2 separate regions of the Homo sapiens genome follow, and region 2 is linked to region 1. A link means that fine-mapping ties the variant in region 1 to the expression of a gene that starts in the linked region. Tissue or cell type: whole blood. Region 1 holds a variant in brackets; the other region holds the start of a gene. All regions are shown on one strand. Distances are from middle to middle.

What was found. PIP is the estimated chance that this variant, and not a neighbour inherited with it, causes the effect.
Region 2: it holds the start of BAMBI, and the variant in region 1 is fine-mapped to the expression of BAMBI in whole blood (TOPMed, PIP 0.96).

The regions. Positions count from the first base shown.
Region 1 is chr10:28,804,082-28,812,265 of GRCh38, forward strand. LINC01517 (long intergenic non-protein coding RNA 1517) reads left to right here. Exons shown (of 4, transcript NR_120652.1): 3 at 1,966-2,057; 4 at 3,809-4,138. Among named protein-coding and RNA genes, the nearest start is that of LINC00837, 12 kb to the left of the region's middle. The variant G/C (reference allele first, on the strand shown) is at 4,280.
Region 2 is chr10:28,673,734-28,681,917 of GRCh38, forward strand. BAMBI (BMP and activin membrane bound inhibitor) reads left to right here and starts at 3,788. Exons shown (of 3, transcript NM_012342.3): 1 at 3,788-4,240; 2 at 7,525-7,812. The coding sequence starts at 4,165. RefSeq lists silencers at 3,256-3,815, 4,541-4,685.

The DNA.
Region 1 (8,184 bases):
TCCTATATTTCTCTTAAGCTAGGGAATGACAACAATATTAAAATTTGCTGGGTTAATAGTTGTTGTTGTTTTTTTTTTTTTTTTTTTTTTTAAGACGGAGTCTCGCTCTGTAGCCCAGGCTGGAGTGCAGTGGTGCGATCTCCGCTCACTGCAAGCTCCACCTCCTGGGTTCATGCCATTCTCCTGCCTCAGCCTCCCGAGTAGCTGGGACTATAGGCACCCACCACCACGCCCAGCTAATTTTTTTGTATTTTTAGTAGAGACAGGGTTTCACTGTGTTCGCCAGGATGGTCTCGATCTTCTGACCTCGTGATCCGCCCACCTCAGCCTCCCAAAGTGCTGGGATTACAGGCTGGTTAATAGATCTTATATACAAATATCACCGGATGCGGCGGCTCACGCCTGTAATCAGCACTTTGGGAGGCTGAGGCAGGTGGATCACTTGAGGCCAGGAGTTCGAGACCAGCCTGGGCAACATGGTGAGACCCCATCTCTACCAAAAATAGAAAAAGTAGGCCAGCATGGTGGCCTGCACCTGTAATCCCAGTTATTCATCAGGCTGGGGCATGAGAATTGCTTGAGCCCAGGAGGCGGAGGTTGCAGGGAGCCGAGATCGCACCACTGCACTCCAGCCCAGGAGACAGAGTGAGACTCTGTCTCAAAAGAAAACAAAACAAACAAATATGTAGTTACTTACGGGATTAGTTATAAAAACAGACAATAGATGTGGAAGCACTCTGACAAAGTTAAGAAGACCCCAGAAAGAGAGATATTTTTATTCTTAGAAACCATCTTTTTTTTGGACTTGTTTTTGTTCTAATGTAACCCTCAGGTAAATGACAGCCAGCCTTCCTAACTAGGGGGTAAGTTTGACTCAAACAAGTGATTAACCATTACCCTGCCTCTGTCTTAAGACTTAGTGAATGAAATCTCCTATCTCTGGCAGCAACCCTCTCCACTCATCTTTTATTGGATTCTTGGGCAAAGTTTGTTTTTCATCTCAGTTACTTTGCCTCCTTTTTATAGGGAGTCTACTCCGAGATCAAAGGCAACCTATAGCAATTTATGAGAAATGAAGGAAGTGGGAGAGATGCTAAGTTACTTTAAGGGATGTTCTGAAATCATGAATCTAGCTGGAATAGCTGGTGTTGGCTGTGTCCAGAAGAGCTGGGACAAGGTACTGCTTTTTGGTGTGGGGAGAGGGACATGAGAGCTTGCTCTTTGGAACATCGGCCTTCATGCCAAGTCTGATGGGTGCTTCCTAATGCTGAATAAGCCTCGGAGTCACCTGGGTTCCTTTTAATTTAAAAATGTATTTTAAAATTTTTGTGGGCACATAGTAGGTGTACATATTTGCAGGGTACATGAGATGTTTTGATACAGGCAGGCAATTTATGAAGAATGGGGTATCCATCCTCTCAAACATCTATCCTATGTGTTACAAACAACCCAATTATACTCTTTTAGTTATTTAGAAATGTATATTAAATTGCTATTGACTATAGTTGCCCTGTTGTGCAATCAAATAGTATGTCTTACTCATTTTTTTTTTTTTGGTACCCATTAACCATCGCCACCTCCCTCCAAGCTCCCTACTCCTTTTTCTTGCCCTGTTGCCCAGGCTAGAGTGCAGTGGCATGATCATGGCTCACTGCAGCCTTGGATTCCTGGCCTTTTAAGTGATCCTCCTGCCTCAGCCTCCTGAGTAGCTAGGACTACAGGTGCATGCCACCATGCCCAGCTAACTTCTTTTATTTTTTTTTTATTTTTGAGATGAAGTCTCACTCTGTCGCCCAGACTGGAGTGCAGTGGTGCAAAATCTTGGCTCACTGCAACCTCTGCCTCCCTGCAACTTCTGCCTCCCGGGTTCAAGCAATTCTCCTGCCTCAGCCTCTTGAGTAGCTGAGATTATAGGCACTTGCCACCATGGCTGGCTAATTTTTTTTTTTTTTTTCGTATTTTTAGTATAGACAGGATTTCCACATGTCGCCCAGGCTGATCTCAGACTCCTGACCTGGATCTTCCCACCTCAGCCACTGAACGTGCTGGGATTACAGGTATGAGCCCCCACACATGGCTACCTTGGGTTTCTTTTGAATGATGCAGATGGTTGGGCCTTACTTAAATGATTCTTCAGGTCCCTAGTGAGTCCAAAGCTTTCGTATCTCAAAGTGTTACAAGTGTCTGGAGGCTCAAACAGCCTCGAGAATCACTGATCTATGTCCCTGATGTCTAGCAGTCTCTTTAAGTCGGTCCTCTTCCCTACAAATATGCTTATATTTTTCAGAGGACTCCTAAATAAGTCCTTGGTTAATCCTGAGTCTGGTTCATTCACTGGCAAAGAACAAAGAGAAAATTTACAAACACGAGAAGGCCTCAGAAGTCAGACTACATAAATTATTTTGGAAAAGGCTTTTCCTTCTTGTATGATTTTCAGAGGGACTTTGGGAAACACACACACACACACACACACACACACACAGAGTCTGGGAGACAAAGTAAACAGGAAAGAAAAGATAGTCTTTTATTGCTTGACGGTTTAAGTGAAAAAAAGTTTATTTCAAAAAATATTTTGACTCCCCCTTTTTTCCCTTTAAAAGTGCATCAAGCTATTTTTAGGAGGGCAGGGTGGCTGGTTTTGGGGGACGAATGAAAGCATGACATCACCATGCTATTTTGGTAGCGCAAGAAGAGAAACATGCCAGGCTAGGTTGGCTTGGGCTTGGTTCTGTGTGTTTGGGAGCTGAATCGCGTCTTTTTCTAATTTGGTTTCTCTCAGAGCTGTGGCTCTTCACTGGAGACTGGAAGCATAATATTTATTCAAAGCTAATTTGTAAACTTCATTTTCAGTTGAAGGTCTGGAATGGAAACTCCTATTGTGATCTTAAGGGCTGTAACCCAGAGAATCTGGTTCTTCCTGGAGTATTTCAGCAGGGATCAGGTTTGCAGACTTTTTCTCAAGGGCCCCAACGAGAAACCTGACTGCCTGCTCTATTTTAGGTCAACTGTGGGGTATCGGTTTGGAAAGCAAATTCTTAACCTGAACTTTTTGTTGCTGATAAGGCTTTGCGGCTAGCAAAGAGGTAGCTTTCTCACTCATTTAGATTTTGCAGTGGAATCGCTCCCTGCATGTGTATTATTGTCAGCAACTCCTATTTTCCCCAGAGAGGTTTTGAAATGTTCTTTCTGAATGTTCATGTTTATAACTTTTCTCAAGTGGAGCTCCTGCTTCCTAAAACACATTCAGCTTGTTCAAGAACTTGCCCCCACCTCCCACCCCTGGAGACAAAAGTATACCTTTGTGTGCATCTGTTAAGCCTAAGATGTCTGAGATGGTTGTTTTCTAAACTAACTCACCAATCGCTTTATCATTAAAAGCAGCATTTTACTCTCATGTTCCTAACCTATTTATGGGTCTGTGATAGATGGTTATTTTTTTGGCAGGCTTGAGATAAGCCTGGGTCAAGGAAACAGCTTGTGTTCGTCTCTTTAAGCCTCACTCATCCTTGCCATATCATTTCATGATTTCCTTTCCTGTTATCTTCAAACATTCCCTCAAAGCAGAAATTGACAAGAGCGAGGAGGTTGGGAAAGGGCTGGCAAAGCAGTTGTTTTTCTTCGTGTTCTAAAATGGATGTTTTCCTTTCCCCCACAACCCCCACTCCCACCCCACTTGCAACCTTTCTTTTTTATTACCCACCCCTGGGTCTCTAAAGATGATGGAAAAAAATAACTCCTTTCCCTCTTTAAAGAAGGGTCCCTAAGAGGTTTCTAATCAGCTCACTGTCAGCCTGTTTCCTCTGATCAGCTTAAATAGGTCTACTTGAAGTTCACAACTGCCAAAACCGCGTGTTCAGACTGAAAGGCTGGGAGCATTTCAGACGCATTTATGAACTTCCACCAAGATGATCCGGCAGGCTGAAATCGCAGGGAGAGCGTCTGTTCAACAAACCCTTTCTTCTTGATTGAATTAGTGTTACCCACTAACAGGATGAGGAATTCCCACTCCACAAGCTGACTTTTTTTCCTCTTTCCACCTCCCGCCTCCCTCCATTAAAATGTAAACTTGATTCCTGTGTCCTTTGCCGGAGCCTGGCTTCCCTGTAAGCCCATCATAAACATCTTGGTAGAAATGCAACTTTTAACCTCTCCTTGATGGTTTTCCGTCTAACTTTATACATGGGGAAAAAATGGTGAAAGACGTTATCTCTGGCGGGTGCAGGCGTGTAGGGGCAGGAAGTTTCTGCACTGTGGCTGCTCTGGTCCTTTCGTAACTGAG[G/C]TTTTCCTGCCCTGTCCTTTAGCAAAGAATGGCTTTGTTAACCATTAGCCACTGACAAGAGTGTGTCCATTTCAGCAAAATTAATAAGAGATAGCATTTTTCTTCCTTCTAAATGGCCCATGTCAGTAATTAACATCGCCTTTCATTACTCAACTTGAAAGCGCCTTCTCGGCCTCCCTCTGACCTTGCCCTGGCTTTGTTAAACTGTGGCCTCCAGCCTGTGAGAGACCTAAATGCAGAAAAAGTTTTGTGACCGAGATGCCTTGAAAGAATCATTCGACAAATATTTATTGAGTGCCTACTGTGTGGGGCTACCAAGTTGAATCAGACATAAACTCTAATGGAGGAAAAAAGAAAAAAACTGGGAGAAAAGATAAAAGGGGTTTGTTTAAAATAGCCCTAAGATAACAGATAATGATGGTTACCCCAGGACAGGAGCAGATCCGGTGTTGTGGGGGCCTGGGCTAATCGAGATGGCCGAGGGGAAAGTGGGTGAAAGTTTTATGGAAAAAGGGACAATTGAGAGAAACATTATAACGGAGTTCAGAGCAAAAAAGGAATATAAAAGTTCAAAAGAGCTTTCCTTACTCTTAGGGAATGAGGGAAGGCGTAACTTCATAGAGAATATATGTTTAAAGCTCAAGAGAGAACTTTCCCCCTTCTTGGTTGGCTGCTTGAACGTATACCTAGCCAATGAGGAGTTCACCATTGAAATGTTAATCATTGCACTAAAGTCTAGTTTAGCCAACCCTCACCCAAAAGTGTGTGAAATATTTTCCTGTTATGTTTTCCCCGCCAGGAGAATTCTTGGTCACAGGGGTAGAAGTGTCACATTAGGGTGAGTTGAATTAGACTCTATGTTCTTCATGACTATAACCATGAACTCCATTGTTCATGGAGCCACCCGGAAAAGCCCAAATGCCCAGGAGGAAAGAATCCGTGGAAAAAATTATGGTGCAGCATCGGATGGCATCTACTTGCAACCAGGATGGTGAAGATTTTTAATGGTTTGTGAAAAAGCAAAAATGTCATATTCTTATTTTTGTGAAGAATGTGAATATTTTCATATTGAGAAGTACAGACTAGAAGACTAAACATTAAAATGTGATTAATAGTTATTGGTAGGTGCTGGAGAAACAAATGATTTGTATATTTCTTCCCTGTGATTTTCAGGATTTTCCAAAATGTTTACAATGCACAGGTGTTACTTTTGCAATCAGGTAAAATGCTATTAAAGAATAAGGATGCTGAGGGAAAAAAGGACTTCTTTATTAAGGGGAGAATTTAAATGTAGATAATTATGAAAATGGCTGGGAGAATTCTTTCCTGTGCCACGTTGAATGCCATCAGTTTTAAAAACAGAAAAACTGCACAACCCTGCAATCAGAACCGAACACGAGAGTCTGTTTTAAGTAACAATGACTATCATTCAATAAACTCGATGGGAGATTTCCCTTTCAGCTAAAAATTTGTCAGTTGATTTTTTTAGAAATTCTTGCAGTGAAAGAATCATTTCTCCTTGTCTCAGATGGAGTGTAGCTCTCGTAGATTTTGGGTTCTGAATTATTCAAGGGTCAAAAATCTACTACAAGGTTGTCCTGATTACTTTTTTTTTTTTTGTAAATTCTTTGTTATTGTACTCTTGCTCGAGCCTAAAGATACAAAAATCTAAAGTCCAGCTATTCATCTAATTATGGCCTTCACTAAATAATAGATACAAATAAAGAGGTTTCTTGTGCATAAATGAACAAGAAACCTCTTTATTTGTATCTATTATTTCGTAGTTTTCTTCTACTCAAATGGCATAAATCAGATAAGTTATTTATTTCACAATTGGTGGCAAGTCTGCAAAAGTCGCCCAAATTGTGATGCAGCTGTCTGCAGATCATAAGCAGAGGAAACAGCTTCTGCTTTCATTCAAATCCTGGGCCCTGCTATTTGCAATAGAAAAGCTAAGTTGGATGTGGGGGTGGGATGGAGGTGACAGAGAGAAGGCAGAGAAATGGGAAAAATGCAAACCTGTAGTTCAGGTTAAAATTGGTTTCCAGCTTCTTTTGGCATTTTGTATCATTTATGCCTCACAATATGAAAAGCAACAACCACCCCTGCGGGTGCCCCTCCCCCAGGCCTGGATTGTTTTTTTTGTCATCTGAGTCATTCAGAATTGTGGGGCAGAAAACACATAAACAGAATGAGAAATGCTGTTTGCCATGAGCACGCAACTTTTAAAACTGTTTCAGGCCTTGAAAGAAGGTTCCTTCCTTTTCTCCTTCCAAAGACTCAAAAAGAAAAAAGAAACTCAAGAAAATACTTCTGTCTTTACAATGAAAGGATTCACGTCCTGTCTGTCCCTGGCAGCCGGAAAGAACAGAGTTGCTGGCTGAGAAGTCAGAGGTGACTTAGGGAGAGAAGTCCAGCCCCAGAGCGGAAAGGCTGGCGGTCAGTAGGGATAACATGGTCTCCACTGAACCTAGGCTGGGGGCAGGAGCGGGGAGCGGGGAGGGAGAAGGGGAGCAGATCTGATTGACCTTGTCCTTGGGAGTCTCAGGAATGTGAAGGAACAATCTCCTTCGAACCTGTTTTGTACCAACTAGTGTCCCAGATACTTAGAAATATTTTCTTCTCCCTCCTTGCCTTGCTTCCTGGGAGTTTATAGGAAACCCAAATTTAAAACATGAACAAAAGCGAAAACCGAATCAGGTAGGTGGGAGAAGAGAATACGGATAATGCACTGCAAGCTTGCTATGGTTGACCAAGCAAGTTAACTCTGAACTTCACAGCATCAAATGCAAAACAAGGGGGTGGGTTGGCAGTGAGTGGAGGAAGCGGACCCACAGTTGTGTATTTTTGGTTCTTTGTGAGGAAGATGGCATGCCCACAGGAAGAGAAAAACCTTGGCCACCACTGGATAGAAAATTCTCCTGTGTTGCTTTATGTAGGAGACGTTTGAAATGTGGTTGAAAATGTACTAGGAAACGTTTCTAAGTGCTTTGCTTTTCCTTGAAACTTTTTGGCCTTCTCTGTCCATTCAACCTTGGTTATTAAAATTTATTCTCTGATATTTCATCCTATAGCTTCTTGTGTAGAGATGAACATACGAAACTCAATCATTTGTATCCCTACAGAAGACTTTTTTTTTTTTGGAGATGGAGTCTTGCTCTGTTGCCCAGGCTGGAGTGCAGTGGCACGATCTCAGCTCACTGCAACCTCCACCTCCCGGGTTCAACTGATTCTCCTGCCTCAGCCTCCCAAGTAGCTGGGACTAGAGGTGCCTGCCACCAAGCCTGGCTAATTTTTGTATTTGTAGTAGAGACGGGGGGGTTCACGATGTTGGCCAGGCTGGTTTCAAATTCCTAAGCTCAAGTGATCCACCTGCCCTGTCCTCCCAAAGTGCTGGGATTCCAGGCTTGAGCCACTATGCCCGGCCAACAGTAGACAATCAAAATTGTCAGAGATGCTTGAACTAGAGCGACTCCATCTTGAATAGAGGCTGGGTAAAATGAGGCTGACACCTACTGAGCTGCATTCCTAGAAATAAAGGCTTTCTAAGTCACAGGATGAGATAGGAGGTTGGCACAAAGTACAGGTCACAAAGGCCTTGCTGATAAAAGGATGCGGTAAAGAGGCTGTCCAAAACCTACCCAAACCATGATGGAGAGAAAAGTGACCTCTGGTCATCCTCACTGCTCATTATACGCCAATTACAATGCATTAGCATGCTAGAAGACACTCCCACCAGTGCCATGACAGTTTACAGATGCCATGGCAATGTCTACCTTATATAGTCTAAAAAGGGGAGGAGCCCTCAGTTCTGGGAATTGCCCACCCCTTTCCGGGAAAACTCATTAATTATCTACTCCTTGTTTAGCATAAAATCAAGAAACAACCATAAAAATAGCCGACCA
Region 2 (8,184 bases), 130 kb before region 1:
CAAGTAACTCTCTACTCTCCCATTCACAATTTAGTGCCATTTAGTTACATGTTTAGCCTATAATTTCAAAGACATCATTTAAAATCTTTAAAACATCTATACGGCCAGCATGGTGGCTCACACCTATAATCCCAGCACTTTTGGAGGCTCAGGCAGGAGGATTGCTTGAGCCCAGGAATTCTGAGACCAGCCTCAGTAACATAGGGAGACCACCATCTCTACAAAAAAATTAAAAAATTAGTCGGGCATGGTGGCTCGCGCCTATATATATACATATATATCTCCCATGGATAAATTATATCTTGAATGCTGTTTGAAGGTAATAAAAAACTATTCTACTGTTTAACGGTTTCAGTTAGGTCTAGAATCAGTTTTCTGTTCTTGGGTATAGAGAGCTTGTTCCTAGGTATTTTCGGAATCCCTTTGTAGATGTAAAAAGAATTTTGGTCGTTGATTTCATTTCTTGCTTTAAACTTCAAAAGGACAGTAGATTGTACTATTTTTTTTCCCTCTACTTATCAACCTACATGTAGGAAAGTAATAACTGAATTATGTGCAAAGCATAAGTAAAATTCTCTAGAGAAGCAATTTTCCTTAAGAATGTTAAATTGAATTAAAATTGTTGCCTATTCTCTCAACTATTGATATGGCCTTATGATTGACACATTATCCCTAAACTGATTTTGATATTCTACATTGATTCAAACACTCTGATTCATTTAGTTGAAAAGTCCATGTCTTCCCCAGAACCATTAGATAAAGTGCGGACTTGTTTCTCTTTAATTTCTGGTCATTTAGAAAGTTTGCCCATTAATAATAAAAACAAAATAGTTGAAATCATTGTCTAAAAAATGGATCCCAAGTTCTTATTCAGAATTGGACTTGGAACAAAAAAATATATACAACCTGGAGTGCTCAAAGTCAACATTAATTCAATAAAATACAAATATCTTAGTTTGGTTTCTTTGGGTTGCAAGGAAAAGAACCTTAAGTAAAAAGGGGACTTTATTAAGGTTACTGAATTAACCTAAGGACAAGAAGTGACGCTGAGTGCCTGGAAATCCATTTGGATTTATGTATTTGCCACTTTGCATATCTTCATTATTTTTCTTCCTCTGCAGACAGGTGGACTACAGCTGCCCCAAAGCAAAATTTTTATGTCTCCCGTGAAATGACCTCAAGGGACTGAGCAGCATGTCTGCTCAAAGACACAGAAGAGAGAATCTAACTGACCTAACCTGGGTCATGTGACTAGCTATGGCCAGAGATTAGGAGATCAGAGTCTCCTAATCAGGTTGCCAACGCCCACTCCGGGAAAAGGGACATTCTCTGACTTGGGCTGGGAGACACTCAGAAAGTGTCTACTAGAATGCAACTTTCACCAACACATTCCCCAGACCTCTTCCATTAAATATTTATCTGTATCAAAGGGAAGTATAGTTCATTTCTGATACGTCTCTGTTCACTTCTTCACATTTTATGCTGCAATCACAAAGACTTGCTTGTCATCCCAACTACCTGTTCGCTGCTTACCACTCCTACTCACCTACACAATCATATTTCATGCCTAAGTCCTGTGGTCCTCTGTGCTTGTAATGGTCTTCTTCCAATCCTTAATGTCATTGCTTCTAGACTTTACCGGCTCTCTTTACCTTCCTAGACTAGTTAACCTCTTTCTTTTAGGCATTGTAACATCATGCACATAAATCTCCATTATTGTCCAGCTCCATTGTTTTGAGATTTACTATCTAGTTTCTGACATCTTTATACCCCCAGACATTGCAAGCCTCGCCTACGGTGGGAGGCCAGGTTGAACTAACATACCCTGAAAGTTTCCTTTTAGCTAATAATTGACTCTAAAAGAGAGTGTAATCATTACATAAAAAGTATTGTCCTCTGGGCGCGGTGGCTCACGCCTGTAAATCCCAGCACTTTGGGAGGCCGAGGCGGGCGGATCACGAGGTCGGAAGTTCGAGAGCAGCCTGACCAACATGGCGAAACCTCGTCTCTATAAAAATACAGAAATTAGCCAGGCGTGGAGACAGGTGCCTGTAATCCCAGCTACTCAGGAGGCTGAGGCAGGAGAATGGCTTGAACCCGGGAGGCGGAAGGTTGCAGTGAGCCGAGATCGCGCCACTGTACTCCAGCCTGGGCGACAGTGCCAGACTCGTCTCAAAAAAAAAAAAAAAAAAAAAAAAAGTCTTGTCTGCATAAAACCCTTACAATTGTTAACTTGTCAAGGTTCTAGTAGCCAGGAAGTTCTAATCAAACTCGGCCCCAGGACTGCCTTGTCAGCACGCCCCTTGAGAAACTTTTCTGAGAAACCTGCTGTTTACCTGGTGCCCTAACCAGTTTAATTTTCTTTTAAAACTTCTACTGGATTTCTCCTTCTCTCCTTTTAGATGCAATTTTGATCTAGAGAAGTAATGGTCTGAGCATCAGTTTATGAAATTATTTTATTTTTCTGCACATAAACATTATTTTTCAAAGACAATTTCATTAACTACATCCTGCAGCTCTGCAGACTTTCAACAACTTTAAAAGGTTAGGCGTTTGAGATATGTTCGCCTTGACTTTCAGTCCTCAAGACATATGTACATTTTTCTTAGTCTCAAAGCTCATGTCTGCACTCTAGTCCTAAAGGATTTGTCTTTATAATTCTCACCTTAGCATGAAATGTGCTTCTCTTTCTTTCCTTCCCCACCCCCCACCCCCTTTTGACATATCCGGTAGGGAAGCTCTGGCAGATTCTCAAGAAGAATTTTGCAAATGGTCGACTTTTGTTCATCTCAGGTTTTGGAGGGAGAGGATAAAAGAACATTCCCTCAGATAATGAGTTTTAACCTTAATTCCTTCCAAAGCGGAGGGGGAAACAAAACTACAGCAAGACCACCTTGAGTACCTTGGGAAGGGCAGCCCCGCGATCCCTAATAAATGAATTAGCATCTCAAGGAGGAGATCACTGCGGGGCTGATATTGATCAGGGTCAGCCGGCGTGTTTGCCAGCCATTGTTTGGGGGGTGGTTAATTGAGTGTCAGTCTCGGCCAGTGTCGTCTCGTTGGCGCCGGGTGCTTTTGGATTTGCTAATTTTCGTTAAGTGTCTCTAGCCCGCTACTCGTCCCGCGTACCCGGGAGAACCTAGCGGCTCCTAACGGATCAACAGTCAGTCTGTCTGGGCTTTATTGATCCCATGGCGGGCAGCTCGAGGCGGACACGCTGAGGGGGTGGGGGGCGAAGGCTGAATGCAGACCCCAGCGCTGGGCCGCCTCCCCCGGGCTCCCACCCGAACCCTCCTCCGCCACCTGCACAGGCCGGGGCATTGTCACTCGCCCCTGGGGGTTCCAGAAAACGCAGTGCGGCCGGGGAGGACGACCACACGGACCCCCTGCGTGTTTCGGGGGGCACCCAAAAGAAGCCCCGCGCTGGGGAACGCTGACCACCCGAGGCTGAGCCGTCAGGGTCTCGGAGGCGGGTTCCCGAGCCGGTCCCGGGGCTGGGCTCCCCCGGCGCCTCGCGAAGGTCACTGACGCGCAGGCCTCCGCAAGGGGGAGCGCGGGAGACGGCAGCGCACCAGCCGGGCGCCCCAGCCGGGCGCCCCAGACGCCGGCGCCGCTCGGAGCCGCCGGGCAGGTCCCCCAGCGCTCGCGTCTGGGCCCGCCCCCCGCTGCGGGGCGGATTGACAGGAGCCCGGCGGCCAATCGGACGCCGTGGGGCGGGGCGAGGCGGGGCGGTGCAGGCCGGCTCCCGGCGCGGGGCGCTATTTACGGCGCGGAGCCGGAGAGACCTGGGCTGGCGCGGGCGGGAGCTGCGGCGGATACCCTTGCGTGCTGTGGAGACCCTACTCTCTTCGCTGAGAACGGCCGCTAGCGGGGACTGAAGGCCGGGAGCCCACTCCCGACCCGGGGCTAGCGTGCGTCCCTAGAGTCGAGCGGGGCAAGGGAGCCAGTGGCCGCCGACGGGGGACCGGGAAACTTTTCTGGGCTCCTGGGCGCGCCCTGTAGCCGCGCTCCATGCTCCGGCAGCGGCCCGAAACCCAGCCCCGCCGCTGACGGCGCCCGCCGCTCCGGGCAGGGCCCATGCCCTGCGCGCTCCGGGGGTCGTAGGCTGCCGCCGAGCCGGGGCTCCGGAAGCCGGCGGGGGCGCCGCGGCCGTGCGGGGCGTCAATGGATCGCCACTCCAGCTACATCTTCATCTGGCTGCAGCTGGAGCTCTGCGCCATGGCCGTGCTGCTCACCAAAGGTGGGTGCCGGGGGCGCACGGGGCCCGGGGTCCCGTCCTCGCCGCGGGGCTTTGGAGCCGGCTGCAGAGGCTTTGTTAGCGGCAGGCGAGGCTCCCTCCTGCGCCGGAGCCGCAGGTCGCGACAAGTTGCTGTGTTCTTAGAAGTCGCGGCGGTGGCCTGGCGCGTGGATGCGGACTCCGATCTAAGGGCAGGCGCTGATCAGAGGGTCCTCCTGGCTCTGCCTGCGGGGAGCGGCGCGTTTGCAGCCCAGCGGGGAGCGGGGCCGGAGTCTCGGCCTCGACGCCGCCGCTTCCGCACCCTGGGGGCTCGGGCGGCCGGGAGGAATCGCAGATCCTGGCCTGTAGCTGCCGCGTGCCCTCAGCGTGTCTGTGTGAGTGCCTCAGGGTGTATTTCTGTGAGTGTGTCTCTGAGTCTCAGTATCCCTAAATGCATTTTTGTGTCTCTGAGTGTCGTTGTGTTTCTGAAAGTGTGTCTGAACCTCTGTATCACTCAGCGTATCTCTGTGTCTCTTTGAATGTATCTCTGAATGCATTTCTGTGTCTCTTTCTGAGTCTTTGTGTCTCTGAATGTGTGAGTCTCTGTATCTCTGATCTTGAGTGTGTCTTTCTGAATGCATTTCTGTGTCTGTCTCTAAGTGTCTTTGTATCTCTGAATGTGCATCTGAGTCTCTGTGTGAGTGTGTCTCTGCGTACATCTCTCTGTGTGCGAGCGAGTGTGTGGGTCTCCCTGAGAGTTTAGGTGTCCGAGGTGTGCAGAAGTGTGTGTTGTGTTGCTTTTCAGCAGCCGGGAGGAGTAGGCTCTGTCAGCGTCTCACTGCCACTCACCTCATATTTTACAAACAGGACCAAAAAAAAAAAAAAGGCAGCGGGTCAGTTTCTTCTTTCCTCTGCAGGCTTTCACCTTTTAGAAAGAAATAACCCGAACTGTCTCCGAATTTCAAGGTTCTCCTCACCTCCCTGCTGTGAAATCTACCTACTGTTCTGTGAACAGATAATTTTTTTAAGTAGGAAGCAGTTTAGTCTTTGCAGCCCCCTACTTCTCTTTAATTGCTATGTAGCAGGCATGAGGTTAAAGCATAAGCTAGCCCAGCGAGGATGATGTGCTACAGTATTTATTTATTTTGGAAGGAAGGGTGTAATTAACCCTAAATAACAGCCCTTGTGGCTTGCAGAGGGGAGCCTCCTGGCCCTATCAAAGGCGGGCAGAACAGGGAGGGACTGAGGCTGACATGAAGTCACAGATACCGAAACTATGTGCCTGATAATGATATAATTAGGGGATCAGAGATTTCTGACGGCTGCGGACTTCAAAAGCTTTAAAAGAAGCCAGCAGTCTCTCCTGTAGCCATCTTGACTAAAGCAGACATTTTTGTTTAATCACTACATACAGTAACGAGAAGGGGACAGAAACAGAAGGGCATTGTTCCACAGTTTCAAAATACCAGTCCCCTTTCTGGCCTTTTGCATGCCACAGGAAGAAACTTTATGAACGACAGAAATATAGTTTTAATACAGTGGTACAAAAGTCCATTCTCCTTGCTTAAAATGTGGCTCCAATTAAAAAAAAAAGGTAGTTAGAACTTTCCCAGTTACCTGTCAAAATTTTATTAGGCTGTTTTTAGGTCATTGAAAATAGGCTCTCATAAACATTTAAGCAGCATTTTACTTGTATTCAGTCTTCCTTTTCTGTACAAGGTCTGAAGCTAATAGGGTCAAAATGGGCTTTTAATCTGTTTTATTTATACTTTAAATCTATATATGGAATTTGTCAAACTAGGGATATGTAGTCATCACCCCAGAAGACTGGTGAGCTTTATGTGGAAAATAAAGTGAGCTTGGAGGGAGGAGGAGAAAGAGCAGAGAAGTGGTTCTGCAAAGCAAGGTTCTTACTTGAAGCAGAGAAGGAACTTGGGCCCAACCAGTGCAGATTTAGGAGCAAGACCCCTAGCTTTGGACTGTTAAGGGTTGCCAAAGATCTGTGTTTAGCGGGCTGGTTTTCCTTAGAACCGAAGCATTAGCAGCGTCCGGTGAAAACTGAGCATACAATACCGTGGTCTGGAATTTGGACAGATAATTAAATGAGACACCTTACTGGGGCGTTCAGAGAGAGGGGGAAGAATAAAGGTAAGGGTGGGAAGAGGTTTGTAAAACAGCAGATCCCGGTGTTTAATTTCAGAGTGGAGGTTTCGGATCTTCAGACGGGAAACTGGAAGAGGCGTGTGCATTAGTTTAGTTTACTCGCTGTGGCATGTGACAGCGACCAGGGTCCACTAGGTGGATATTGTATTAGTGAGAACTTGAAGACCCAGATTATTTCAACGAGAAACTGATATTAAAGCCTCCAATCTTGCCCTGCGACAAAATGTGAACGGAGCCATGCAACTCACAAAATAAGTTTTTATAAAGGAAACTTTTAATCACTTCCTGTAGAAAATTTGAGGTTTCCTTAAGGATTTTTCATTCAACCAGCAGAGGATTTTCAGTTTCAGTGTTTCCCCTTTTAGATCACATGTCGAATTACATGTAAAACTTGTGAGGAGGAGGAGGAGAAGTTAGCCTTGCAGTTTTATACTCCCCCCACCTTTTATGACTTTCCATTTGGGCTGAAAGAAATTGACTTTGGCAAGCAAACCACTAATTGTAAACTGCCTAGTTCCTGTTTTACAATATACTGACTAAAAGCTCCTCTGCATGAAAAGATCTTTATAGGCAAAAAGTTTGCCTTTTCTAGAGAGGTTGCAAATAGCTGCCTAGTTTCATAGTTTTAAAACCTCCTGACCTGGGCAGTTTCTAGATTGTTGTGTTTCTAGTTAATAACTTTATAAGGTGTTAGCTAAAGCTCTTAACTCTTGGTGCAGTCCTGTGGGATAGTAAACAATTCAGTAGTTCCGATCAAATATTTATACTGACAAAATCAAAAAGCCTAACATTTTTATGTTGTATGGTCATGTAGGATTAAAATGAATAAATAATGTGTTATACCTTATGGTAGGAGAAATTATACTCATTACTATTTCCTTCAAAAAGCAAAAGTTTTTTTAAAATGACTCTAAACTCCTCAGAAACCTGCTATTGGGATTACTACATTGCCAAAATGACGTTTAACTGGATTGAAACTTACGCACTGGCTGCAGGAAGGGCTTCTCCAGGCTCTGTAGACTGGAGCCCTCAGCTTGGATGATCTAAAAGTTCATGCCTTTGAATTTGGGATTTAGCAGTTGCCTAAATAGTTGCTTTATCTGGTCTCTGGAGCAGAGTTTGAGGTGGTTTCTCATTGTTTTCAGGTGAAATTCGATGCTACTGTGATGCTGCCCACTGTGTAGCCACTGGTTATATGTGTAAATCTGAGCTCAGCGCCTGCTTCTCTAGACTTCTTGATCCTCAGAACTCAAATTCCCCACTCACCCATGGCTGCCTGGACTCTCTTGCAAGCACGACAGACATCTGCCAAGCCAAACAGGCCCGAAACCACTCTGGCACCACCATACCCACATTGGAATGCTGTCATGAAGACATGTGCAATTACAGAGGGCTGCACGATGTTCTCTCTCCTCCCAGGGGTGAGGCCTCAGGTAGGTGGAAGCCGTTTCTAACCAGAATGCCTGCCTGATCTATAGACTTGTGACAGCCACGACTTTGTATGTCTGCTATTGATTTTGTTGTTAATGTAATTAGAGACACCAGAGGGAGAAGCCTGGCTGGATGCAAAGATGCATCTTGATTGAGTGGCTTTTATGTCTGAGCATTAGATGTCTGTCTACATAATAGGTTTTGCCTGTTTTTTCAACATTTTGAAGACATTAAAAGGCCATTACATCTCAGTAATGACAGTCTGTAAACAAATGCGTTTGTAAGCTTCTTCAGATAGTTTTGCAATGTTTTCTAAATATCGTTGATTTAATTGTAAGCTTCTTTTTAATGGAATTCTTGGTTAAAATGAATTG